2 separate regions of the Homo sapiens genome follow, and region 2 is linked to region 1. The links come from fine-mapping of genetic effects on gene expression. A gene starts in region 1. The other region holds a variant in brackets. All regions are shown on one strand. Distances are between the middles of the regions.

What was found. PIP is the estimated chance that this variant, and not a neighbour inherited with it, causes the effect. A credible set is the group of variants that fine-mapping cannot tell apart.
Region 2: its variant is the best candidate, but not a certain one, in a credible set for the expression of TRMT9B in sun-exposed skin (GTEx, PIP 0.55).

What each region holds. Positions count from the first base shown.
Region 1 is chr8:12,943,582-12,948,973 of GRCh38, forward strand. It overlaps TRMT9B (tRNA methyltransferase 9B (putative)), which reads left to right and starts at 2,092. Exons shown (of 5, transcript NM_020844.3): 1 at 2,092-2,385.
Region 2 is chr8:13,008,079-13,013,470 of GRCh38, forward strand. It overlaps TRMT9B (tRNA methyltransferase 9B (putative)), which reads left to right. Exons shown (of 5, transcript NM_020844.3): 4 at 4,606-4,779. All of the region lies in intron 4 of LOC124901889 (a long non-coding RNA gene), which reads right to left. Among named protein-coding and RNA genes, the nearest start is that of TRMT9B, 65 kb to the left of the region's middle. The variant C/G (reference allele first, on the strand shown) is at 2,632.

The DNA.
Region 1 (5,392 bases):
TGAACTCTGAGAGGAAGGCTGAAGAAGATTAGTATTGTCTTGCTTGCTCTCAGAAGATAAGAGCTGTGCTTTGACAATTGCAAATAGTTTTCGAACAAAATTTTCTTATGGCACAGCTTTCTGAAACTATTTTACAATGCGTTAACTTCTAGTAACATACATTAGGATCTAATCTTAAGTATTAATTTATTTGAAAATATCTCAAAACTTGTATCCCCCAAAAAGTTCAAAATATATCTCCAGAGAAAAATAAAAACCAACTATCTCAAAATTCACCCTTTGTTTTCCCCAGAATCAAATCTCTAGGGATGACACGAGCACAGGTGAGTGCACAAGTGCACATAATGCACACACACACACACACACACACACACAGAGTGACCCTATTTCTCCATTTTTCCTAGAGCTGACTGTCATACAAACCCAAGATTACCATTACTAATAGGTAGATCTCATCAAGACACTTAGCCAGGGAGCCAACATTTGCCTTCACCTAAAAAACAGGATGTAAATACAATAGGTAATTTATTTTTGACATAGACATAAAATAGCTTTTTACGGTGAGAATGATGAGGTCATTGTGACTTCTACACTTGAAACAATTGGACTTTCTCGTACTTTTGCACTTGAGAATTTAAAATAATAATAAAGAGAACGAAAGAGTACTATGTTGGTACTGCTCCTCACATATTTCATTGGTAAGAGCAGTGATGAAATAGCAATAAAATTTATGAGACAAGAGTTGTGGCTATAAATAGGGATATGCTTTGCTCGCAAACTGCATAGAATCCCCTTCCCTTTAAAAAATATATAGAAGAGGCCAGGTGTGGTGGCTCATGCCTGTAATCCCAGCGCTTTGGGGGGCCAAAGTGGGTGGATCACCTGAGGTCAGGAGTTTGAAACCAGCCTGACCAACATGGTGAAACCCTGTCTCTACTAAAAATACAAAAAAATTAACCAGGCCTGGTGGCACGCGCCTGTAATTCCAGCTACTTGGGAGGCTGAGGAAGGAGAATCACTCGAACCTGGGAGTCAGAGATTACAGTGAGCTGAGATTGCACCACTGCACTCCAGCCTGAGGGACAGAGCAAGTCTGCCTCTCTCAAAAAAAAAAGTATATATATATATATATATATATATATGAAAATAAAATTCCATCACCTAGAGAAAATCACTAGTCACATTTTTGTATGGTTGTCCAGCATTTTCCCCTACATATATGTAAATATACTATATAATGTTAAAATATTGGGGTGAAACTGCTTTTTATTTAACACTGCATTGTATCTCCAGGTCATTAAATTGTCTTCAGGATCATGGCTCTGCATTTTTTAACATGTAGTTGCTCCCTTATTTATATAACACATTCTCTGTTGGTGAAATTTATTGTATTTTTTTGCAGTTTTTCTTTTCCTACCATGACAAATAAGCTCATCTTTTCCAGTCCTTGTTCATTCAAAGCTGGAAACAAACAACACACACACCCAAATCAGACCTGAGATTCTATGCACAAAAGTGCTTCTTGAAACAAATTATCTAATAGTATTGTAAAAAGAAAAAAAAAGAGATAAAATAAGCCAAGTGATATGTGTCACTCAGTGTTCCAGCGAAAAGCTGACTCCAAAAATTACGTGATCATAATAGCAGAATGATGAAAGAGTGACAGACAAAAGGTAAGAGCATGAGGATGAAGAGGTAATACTCAAACAGCTTTGGAAATGGAGAGGAAGCTGGCGAATGACACAAAGGACAGCTGGAGGATGAACCAGTTTCCCAAGGGGCAAAAGAAACAATGTTGTTTGACATCTTCAGCAAACATTCCAAACTGTAGGGAAGAGGGATGATGGGTTTGTGTTGGTGATAACAGCAAAGTATTAAAGCATGCCTAAAAACTTTCACCATAAAGCAACAATTATTCTTGGTAATGCTACCAGGATAACAAGTTTCTACATGTTGTCATGCTGGCAAAGAAAATAGGGTGTATTTAGAGATTAGATGCCCCATGGACATGTGGTCATGGAAACAAAAGCAAACAGCTAACGTGGCTATGTGTTGAGGTCAGTATTTGAGGGAACATCCGGTGTGTGTTTTATTCAGTATTGTGTAGTACAGAAAAGATCACACATGTATATGTCAGAAGTAGATGCACATGTTCTTTTGGCTTTTTTTCTTTGTTTTATTCTTTTTTCATTTTTTGTGTTTTTTGTTAGTTTGTTTTGAATTTTTTTTCTTGATGCATATGTTCCTTCAACTTATTCAGTACTTCCATGTGCAGGGCTCTGGACTAGACTTTCAGGATCTAAGGCTGAATCCTACACAGTCCTCCCTCTGGGAAAGTGATGAAACCTGTGAGCTCTCCTAGCAACTCTGCAGTCTTCCTTCAAGGTATGTGTTGCAATTTGGGGTTGCACATTTTAGTTGTGATATTTGTGATTAGTTGATTAATGTTTGTCATCCCACGAGACTATAAGTGCCATGAGGGTAGATATCTTATCTGTTTTGCTCCCCATTGCTTTTCTCACAGACTGCTCAGCAATGAATCTTTGTTGAATAAAATAATACTTTATACAAAGGTTAGTGATAAATGTAAGAAGCATCTAGATCAAGAACTGATACATTCTTAGGACAGAAAGATTAATCTAGACAATAGCTTTTTGTCTGGAATTATCTTTTATGGAAGAGACGGCCTTGGCAATCAGAAGAGCAGATTAAGCAATTAGTGTAATCATCTAGGTGGGAAGTAATGGGACATAAAGAACTAGAATAGAAACAATAAGAAGGGAGCAGAGTTGATAAATAAAAGCAGTACAGATACAAAATTGTCAGACGGTGGTCACCCATGGGCTATGAAGGGCAAGAAGAAGCAGAGTCTAAGAATGTGCCAGGTGACTGGGAGGACGGAGATTGTAGAAGAAAGAAAAGGGCAGCTGCTTTAGGTGCACGGAGGGCGAAGGACCTCAGGTTCGAATGTGTTGATGTCACCCTGGTGGAGATGTCAAGCAAGATGAGAGCATGGGATCTGCAGGTTTATGAGAAGACCAATTCAGAGAAACAGAATTTTGAGAAATCTACACAGCGTTTTTCCTTGCAGTTAGAAAGGTGGATGAGGTTGTCTAGGGAGATTATATAGAGAGAAAAGCAGAGGACCAAGGACAGGTGCTTGAGAAATGATGAGACTTGGCAGGACTACTTTTTTAAAAGTTCAGGAAGAAAGAGAAGAAGTGGCATTTCTCTTTTTGGTGCATAAAACCCTATAAGAGAAGAAACCATCCTATTCCCAATGCCAGGAAGTTCCCTATGTACCTTGAGAAGGTCTTCCAGGTTTCAGAGGTGTGGAAGATATCAGTTCCTTGGATAAAGGCAGCAGCTACACACTTTCTAGCAGCAAAATGGCTGAAGAACTGAAGGGTTTAGGATTTAGGAGATGGCTACTGGGACTCCAGCCCGTGAACATCCCAAAATGACAAAGACAGCTCTTGGTTAGCATGTCTGTCTCTAAATTGTGCTGACTAATAAACAGCTGTGAGCTCTTTGATTCTCAGTCCATTCTGACTGGGTCACTGTGGGGAATCCTTTAAAACCAATGAGGCCATAAAGCTTGAGCTTTGCCTATCCCTGTTGTTGGAATATTTTGTCTCCAGTCTCCTAAAGATCAGTCTGAGAGACTGGAACACACCTCACAATTTCTTCCTGCAATCTGAAGTTAAGCTCACCCGGGTCTACCATTCAGCCTGGTGATGATTCCACTTCCTTATGCATCAAGATGTTATCATGCTAAACTAGCTAAAACCACTAAAAAAATATGGGATGACTTGGAAAGGTGGAGAAAAGTGGGTAAAAATACAGTAATTTTTTTGGTAAGTCTCCATTAAGCTAATAATAGGTAAGCACCCTCAATGGCTAAGAGCCAGTACCTTAGACCACGTCCTTGAATAAAATAGATGGTCAAGGCTGAAGTGAATGAAATGGTGACATAAGCATCATGCAGCACATTTTGAGGCTTATGGCAACACATGCATATTAATGCAAATATGTGCATTGAGTTCTAAGTGCTAAGGACTGTGATAGCCAATGAGGATAAGTAAAATAATGGTCAAAAGCTTTAGGAAAAGAACTTACGTGAATTCCTTACTTAAATGCCATAACTTAAGAGACTTCAGGTGTGCAGTATTTATTACATAAGCTGGAGAAATTTCATGCTTTGCTAGGCAACAGCCTTGTAGTCCACAGGACATGCTAGATAGCTCCTTTGGTTGATTGAATTGGTCACATTTGGAAAGTGTGCAGCCTATGTATAAGGAAGCATTGGGGCTGCCTTGCTCAGAAACAGGCAGTGAGTAAGGCAGGCATTCAAGGAATCATGGCCGGCCATCTGTAGCCTTAAGAGGTGTGTGCCAGACCCAGGGAGTTGACTAATAAAGAAACTGAGTTAACTGAGAAAGGTCATAATAATATTATATAGTACTGTTGCTCCTTGACTTACGATGGGGGTTACATCCTAATAAACCCATTGTAAATGGAAAGTGTTGTAAAATGCATTTAACACACCTAACCTACTGAACATGATAGCTTGGTTTAGCTTAGCCTTAAAATGTGCTCAGAACACTTACATTAACCTGCAATTGGGCAAAACCATCTAAGACAAAGCCTATTTTATAATAAAGTGTTGAATATCTCATGTAATTTATTGAATCCTGTAGTAAAAATGAAAGACAATGGTTGTATGAGTACTAGAAGTATAACTTCTTGTGAATATGCATTGCTTTCAAATCATCATAAAGTTGAAAAATTGTAAATGAACCATCGTAATTCAAGGAACATCTGTATATATAATATATATAATATATTCTGTTATATATAAATATATGTATGTATATAACACATAATACAATAATTTATATTATATAAATATATTAAAATATATAATACATGTGAATATATATTCATATTGCATATATATTTACATTGCATATGAATATATAATATATAAGTATATAAATTATATGCATGATATAATAATAAAATGTAATGATAAAGAAACTTAGTTAACTAAGCAACACACAGTGAAGTTAAGTGTAACATTAGAAAAAAACAGAAGGCCAGGCACGGTGGCTCATGCCTGTAATCCCAGCACTTTGGGAGGCCAAGGCGGGTGGATCACGAGGTCAGGAGATCGAGACCATTCTGGCTAACACGGTGAAACCTCATCTCTACTAAAAATACAAAAACTTAGCCGGGCATGGTGGCAGGCGCCTGTAGTCCCCGCTACTTGGGAGGCTGAGGCAGGAGAATGGCGTGAACCTGGGAGGCGGAGCTTGCAGTGAGCCGAGATCGCACCACTGCACTCCAGCCTGGGTGACAGGGCAAGACTCCGTTTCAAAAACAAACAAAC
Region 2 (5,392 bases), 64 kb after region 1:
TCAGGTCACAACATTTTTGTCAATTTACCAATGTATAAGCTTGTTGCATATGTGTTTCTGTTTAAAGACACCTTCTTTACTATATATCATTATTTCATAAACATTGGGCTCACGGCCAGCACACTATAACTCTTTCGTGAACAAAGCTTATCTAACACATATATTTTGTCCATCAGAGACATCCCAGCCTTCTTATGTTCAGGAACACTAGACGGCATTTCAGCCCCAGGCTTAGGCCATTTGAAAGAGCAAAATCACCAGTAAAAACTGTACAAATGGAGAAATTGTGGCCCTAAATAGATTATGGAAAGGACACTTGATTACGGTATGGGAGCTGAAAAAAGGAGGCTGGGTATGTGGGTCTCAGATGACTCAAATATTTTGCTGCACTGTGAGTATTTAAGTCTAATAATGACAATGCAAGGCTGTAGTATTGACGTTGGGGTTACAAATAAATTTCAGCAGGTACATTAACTGCAAATATGGAAGCTGTAATTTATGAGGATTAACTATATTGACAGATAACTTTGACCCTATAAAAATGGAAAAGTTCCACAAGACAAAAATCTAGACAGACATACAATTCAAGTCAAAAGACCAAAATCAAACTAAGTAAAAATATCTGCAACACATGTCATAGAAATCTAGATAATTTTTTTTTCTTTTTTGAGACGGAGTCTTGCTCTGTTGCCCAGGCTGGAGTGCAGGGGCGCCATCTCGGCTCACTGCAAGCTCCGCCTCCCGGGTTCACGCCATTCTCCTGCCTCAGCCTCCCTAGTAGCTGGGACTACAGTTGCCCGCCACCACGCCCAGCTAATTTTTTGTATTTTTAGTAGAGACGGAGTTTCACCGTGTTAGCCAGGATGGTGTCGATCTCCTGACTTTGTGATCCACCGACCTTCGCCTCCCAAAGTGCTGGGATTACAGGCGTGAGCCACCGCGCCCGGCCGGTAATTTTTTTAATCTACTAAGCATTCTTCAACATCACTGTAAAAAAAGGACCAGCATCCTGTCATTTGCGACAACACGGAGGAACCTGGAAGATATTATGCTAGGTGAAATCAGCCAGGCACAGAAAGACAAATACCCAGTGATCTCACTTATACATGGGATCTAAAACAGTTGGACTCATAGAAGGAGAGATTAAAATGGTGGTTACCTGGGGCTGGGGTGTCGAAGCGGGTGGGGTAGGTGTAGGAAATGGTAAGACGTTGGTTAAAAGGCTCAGAGTATCAAACAGAAGGAATTAAATTCAAAGGAAAAAAAAAGGGAAAACTATCAACAAGTCACAAGAAAAATAGGGAAAGGATGTGAACAAATGGTTCAAAATGTGTAAAAGTATTTTAATAGGTAACCCACTGATACGGTTCGGCAACAAAGTACAAAAGAATGCTTAGTGTAAAATCTTCTCCCATCCCAGTCCCTGGCGCCAAGCAACCCACACCAGAGGCCTCTGACGCTGTTAGCTTCTTGTATGATCTTTTTGAGATGTTTTATGTAAAAATAAGCGTATTTGTGCCTGTGAGAGTGTGATGGGTAATTTCCCTTTTTTGGTTACACTAATGGTAGTATACTATAAAAACAATTATAATTATACACCTAGGTTTTGTTATACTTTTAATATATTGAGGAAATCATTCCATATTTATATTTATTATAGAGCTACCCAGTATTAAAACCTGCCTAGCATTCTATGCTAATAGTGCCATATTAACATTTAATACATGTTGTTTGCTGTATTTTGCCGCTACAAATTACACTACAGATAGGCCAGGCGCGGTATCTCACACGTGTAATCCTAGCACTTTGGGAGGTGTGGCGGGCAGATCTTTTAGCTCAGGAGTTCGAGACCAGCCTGGAAAACATGGTGAAACCCCATCTCTACAAAAAATACAACAACAGTAAAAATAATTAGCTAAGCATGATACACGTGCCTGTAGTCTCAGCTACTTGGGAGGCTGAGGTAGGAGGACAGATTGAGTCTGGGAGGCAGAGGTTGCAGTGAGCCGAGATGGTGCCACTGCATTCTAGCCTGGGTGGCATAGTGAGACCCTATCTGAAAAAAAAAAAAAAAGTCTCACAAATAATATTCTTTAAATACCTCTGTGCAAATCAACAACTACATCTATAGTAAATATCTTTTTGCCAATTTGTATCTTTTGAATTTTGTACTATATACATTTTTTAAACTATTCAATAAATAGGGTCATATTTTCATTGCAAAATGAAAGATGCATTTTAATGAAATTGAAGTTAAAGAAGAAAGAAATGAAAAAGAAAGAAGTTCAAAGGGATGAGGAGAAGAAAAGACAGATGGTAATATGACTGTCCTCTAAAGGAAATGGTTTCTGTTGCTAGGTTTTTCCACTTAGCTAAAGTCATCAGCTGTTTGATGAATAGACAATAGTTTGGATTAAAAAATATTTAAAATTCTTTTATTGTTCACATTCAAGATTTAAACATGAAGGCCATTAGAAATGAATAGGGGCAAATCAAGAGTTCTAGGGCACTGGAAGCATGTCAGGAGAAAAGACCTCTGTTTCCTTCTTATTACAAAATGCTCTCTGAACAGGCCCTCCTCATTCTAAAGATGTATGAGTCTGATTTTATTAATATCATTGAAGTAACTTT[C/G]CCTTTCATTTCTCCTAAAGTATCCCTCGAGCCAATGAAAAAGCAAATGAATTGCAAGGTTATTTTTCTTAAAATAGGACCATCGTCTTTTGAAATACACAGGATTTTAATTTTAAAATACTTTGTGAATTATATTTTCCCCATGATTGCCTTCAAACAGAGGGTACTTTTTCTCATAATCATTATTGGGAACAGTGTGGCTACGAGATCAAAGAAATAATATCATAGAAATAATATGGTCACATTTACGTAGAAATAATAATCCTGGAATTGTTTTCTTTTTCTTTTTTGAGACAAAATCTAACTCTGTCATCACCTAGGCTGGAGTGAGGTGATGCTACCCCAGCTCACTGCAACCTCCACCTCCTGAATTTAAGTGATTTTTTTCTGCCTCAGCCTCCTGAGTAACTGGGATTACAGGTACCTGCCACCACACCCAGCTAATTTTTGTATTTTTAGTAGAGAGGGGTTTCATCATGTTGGCCAGACTGGTCTCGAACTCCTGCCCTCAAGTGATCCGCCCACCACAGCCTCCCAAAGTGCTAGGATTATAGGCATGAGCCACCGCGCCAGACCCCAAATTTTATTTTTTATTCATATATTCTCCACTGTCTCAGCTGGCATTAATGAATCTTAAGTTTGCTTTTACTGTATCATAATTTTGAAAGTGCCTAGTAAGGAGGGGTTATTAGTGTCCTGATGTATTTCAGAAGCAGCAAACTAATCATCTTTGAATAGTGGTAGATATCTTTTCAGGTAGAAAAATTTCATCAGTAATGCCAATAAGTACAAATATAGGCTCTAATGATTTCTTTTAATATTTCTGGAAAGTAATTAGATTATATATCTGTGATAGAATATAATACTAAGTATTAGACTGTAGAAGGCTTTGTTTCAAGGTGGTTTATTCATTCATGTTACTACCTACCTCAATCATAACATCAGTAAGACCTCAATGATCTAAATATTTGGGCTTTGTAAATCCTGAATTACTTAGGTCTCTGCTACTGGAAAGTGAATATCAAAAATTGTCTATTTAAGAAAAAAAGTAGTTTTTATAATCTGAGTTGTATACTGGACCCATAGAGATCATTTTAAATGTAGCAATGAATAGAGATTGGATAAAAACAATGTTAAAAATTCTTTTCTAATTCAAGTTCAAATTTTAAAAATTTGAAAGGCATGTTTTAGTGTATAAATAATAGAAAAGTTGTTGACAGTTGTTTGTTTTGCAGTCAGCAAGTGGTAAGAATCTTTGGAGAGACAACAGGAGAATAAAAGCCGAAACATGCGTATATACAAAATGAAATATGAATGTGAGCTTAGAGGCTACACGTGGTCTCTCGGATACTAGAACTATCTTTCTTGCCTTGGACCAGCTAACGTGCCTTGGTTGCGCCAGTGTACTGAGCCCTGTGGACATCACCTCATTAAATATTCAATAAATGTTATTTTTTTCCTATTGCCTTTCTCTCTTCTATATGAGAATCTGTAAGTATTCGCCGAAGGCTTTTCTTTTGCTTTTGTGAATACCTTCACACCATGTTGTATTCTGTCTTGGTTAGTTAAAAAAAAAAAAAAAGTTGGCCAGGCACAGTGGCTTGCACCTGTAATCCCAGCACTTTGGGAGGCCGAGGCAGGCGGATCACCTGAGGTTGGGAGTTCGAGACCAACCTGACCAACATGGAGAAACCCGTCTCTACTAAAAATACAAAATTATCCGGTCATGGTGGCACGCGCCTATGATCCCACCTACTCGGGAGGCTAAGGCAAGAGAATTGCTTGAACCCGTGAGGCAGAGGTTGCAGTGAACCGAGATTGCGCCACTGCACTCCAGCCTGGGTGACTGAGGGAGACTCTGTCTCAAAATAAATAAATAAATAAAAGGTTAATTATATTTCTTGTTATGAGACAAATGAAGTATTTCACATTTTCCATTGAGGATAGCATGTAACGCAGGTTTTTCTCTTATAGGTTGTGGGACTGGAAAATATCTTAAAGTGAACAGCCAGGTACATACCGTGGGCTGTGACTACTGTGGGCCACTGGTAGAGATTGCCCGGAATAGAGGATGTGAAGCCATGGTATGTGACAACCTTAATCTCCCCTTTAGGGATGAGGGCTTCGATGCCATCATCTCCATAGGAGGTAAGGCAGCCAGATCACACATTCACCCTTTGCCATGAGAATAATTGACCCGGTTTAGTCCGTTCTCATGACTCAACATCCGTTCTGTGTAGAAATGTCAATGTAATTTATTTTATCTAATTTAAAAAAATTGTTTCAACTACTTGACTGATTTGACTTAACTCCAAAATGTATTTATGGCACATATGATTGTTTTAACTATTTAAACCTTCAACTTGGTATTGCAGTTTTTTTATGATTCATTCCAATTTCTTTTGAGTAAGAAAGGATTAGAGGAATCTTACTCATTGAAAATAGCACTTCATTATATTTAAATGAAGCCAGATTAATCCAAAGCAAAGTAGATTTTTAGAAGTTATATTACCATTTTTTAGGCCAAAATAGTGGCCTTTGTTAACAGAGAATTCTAGGGCTAACAAACCAAATGTCACCTGGACCAATCTGCCACTCACTGGTACTCAAGTTCATGGAGAAGGTAGGTCCCATCTGGTCTTGGATTGCATTGTTTTTATAATGCCACTCTGCTCATTTGCTGCCAGAGATCGTTCATGAGTCTAGGGAATGTGTTTCTCATATCCTCCCAACAAGTGTGACCAGAAAACACACATGCCAA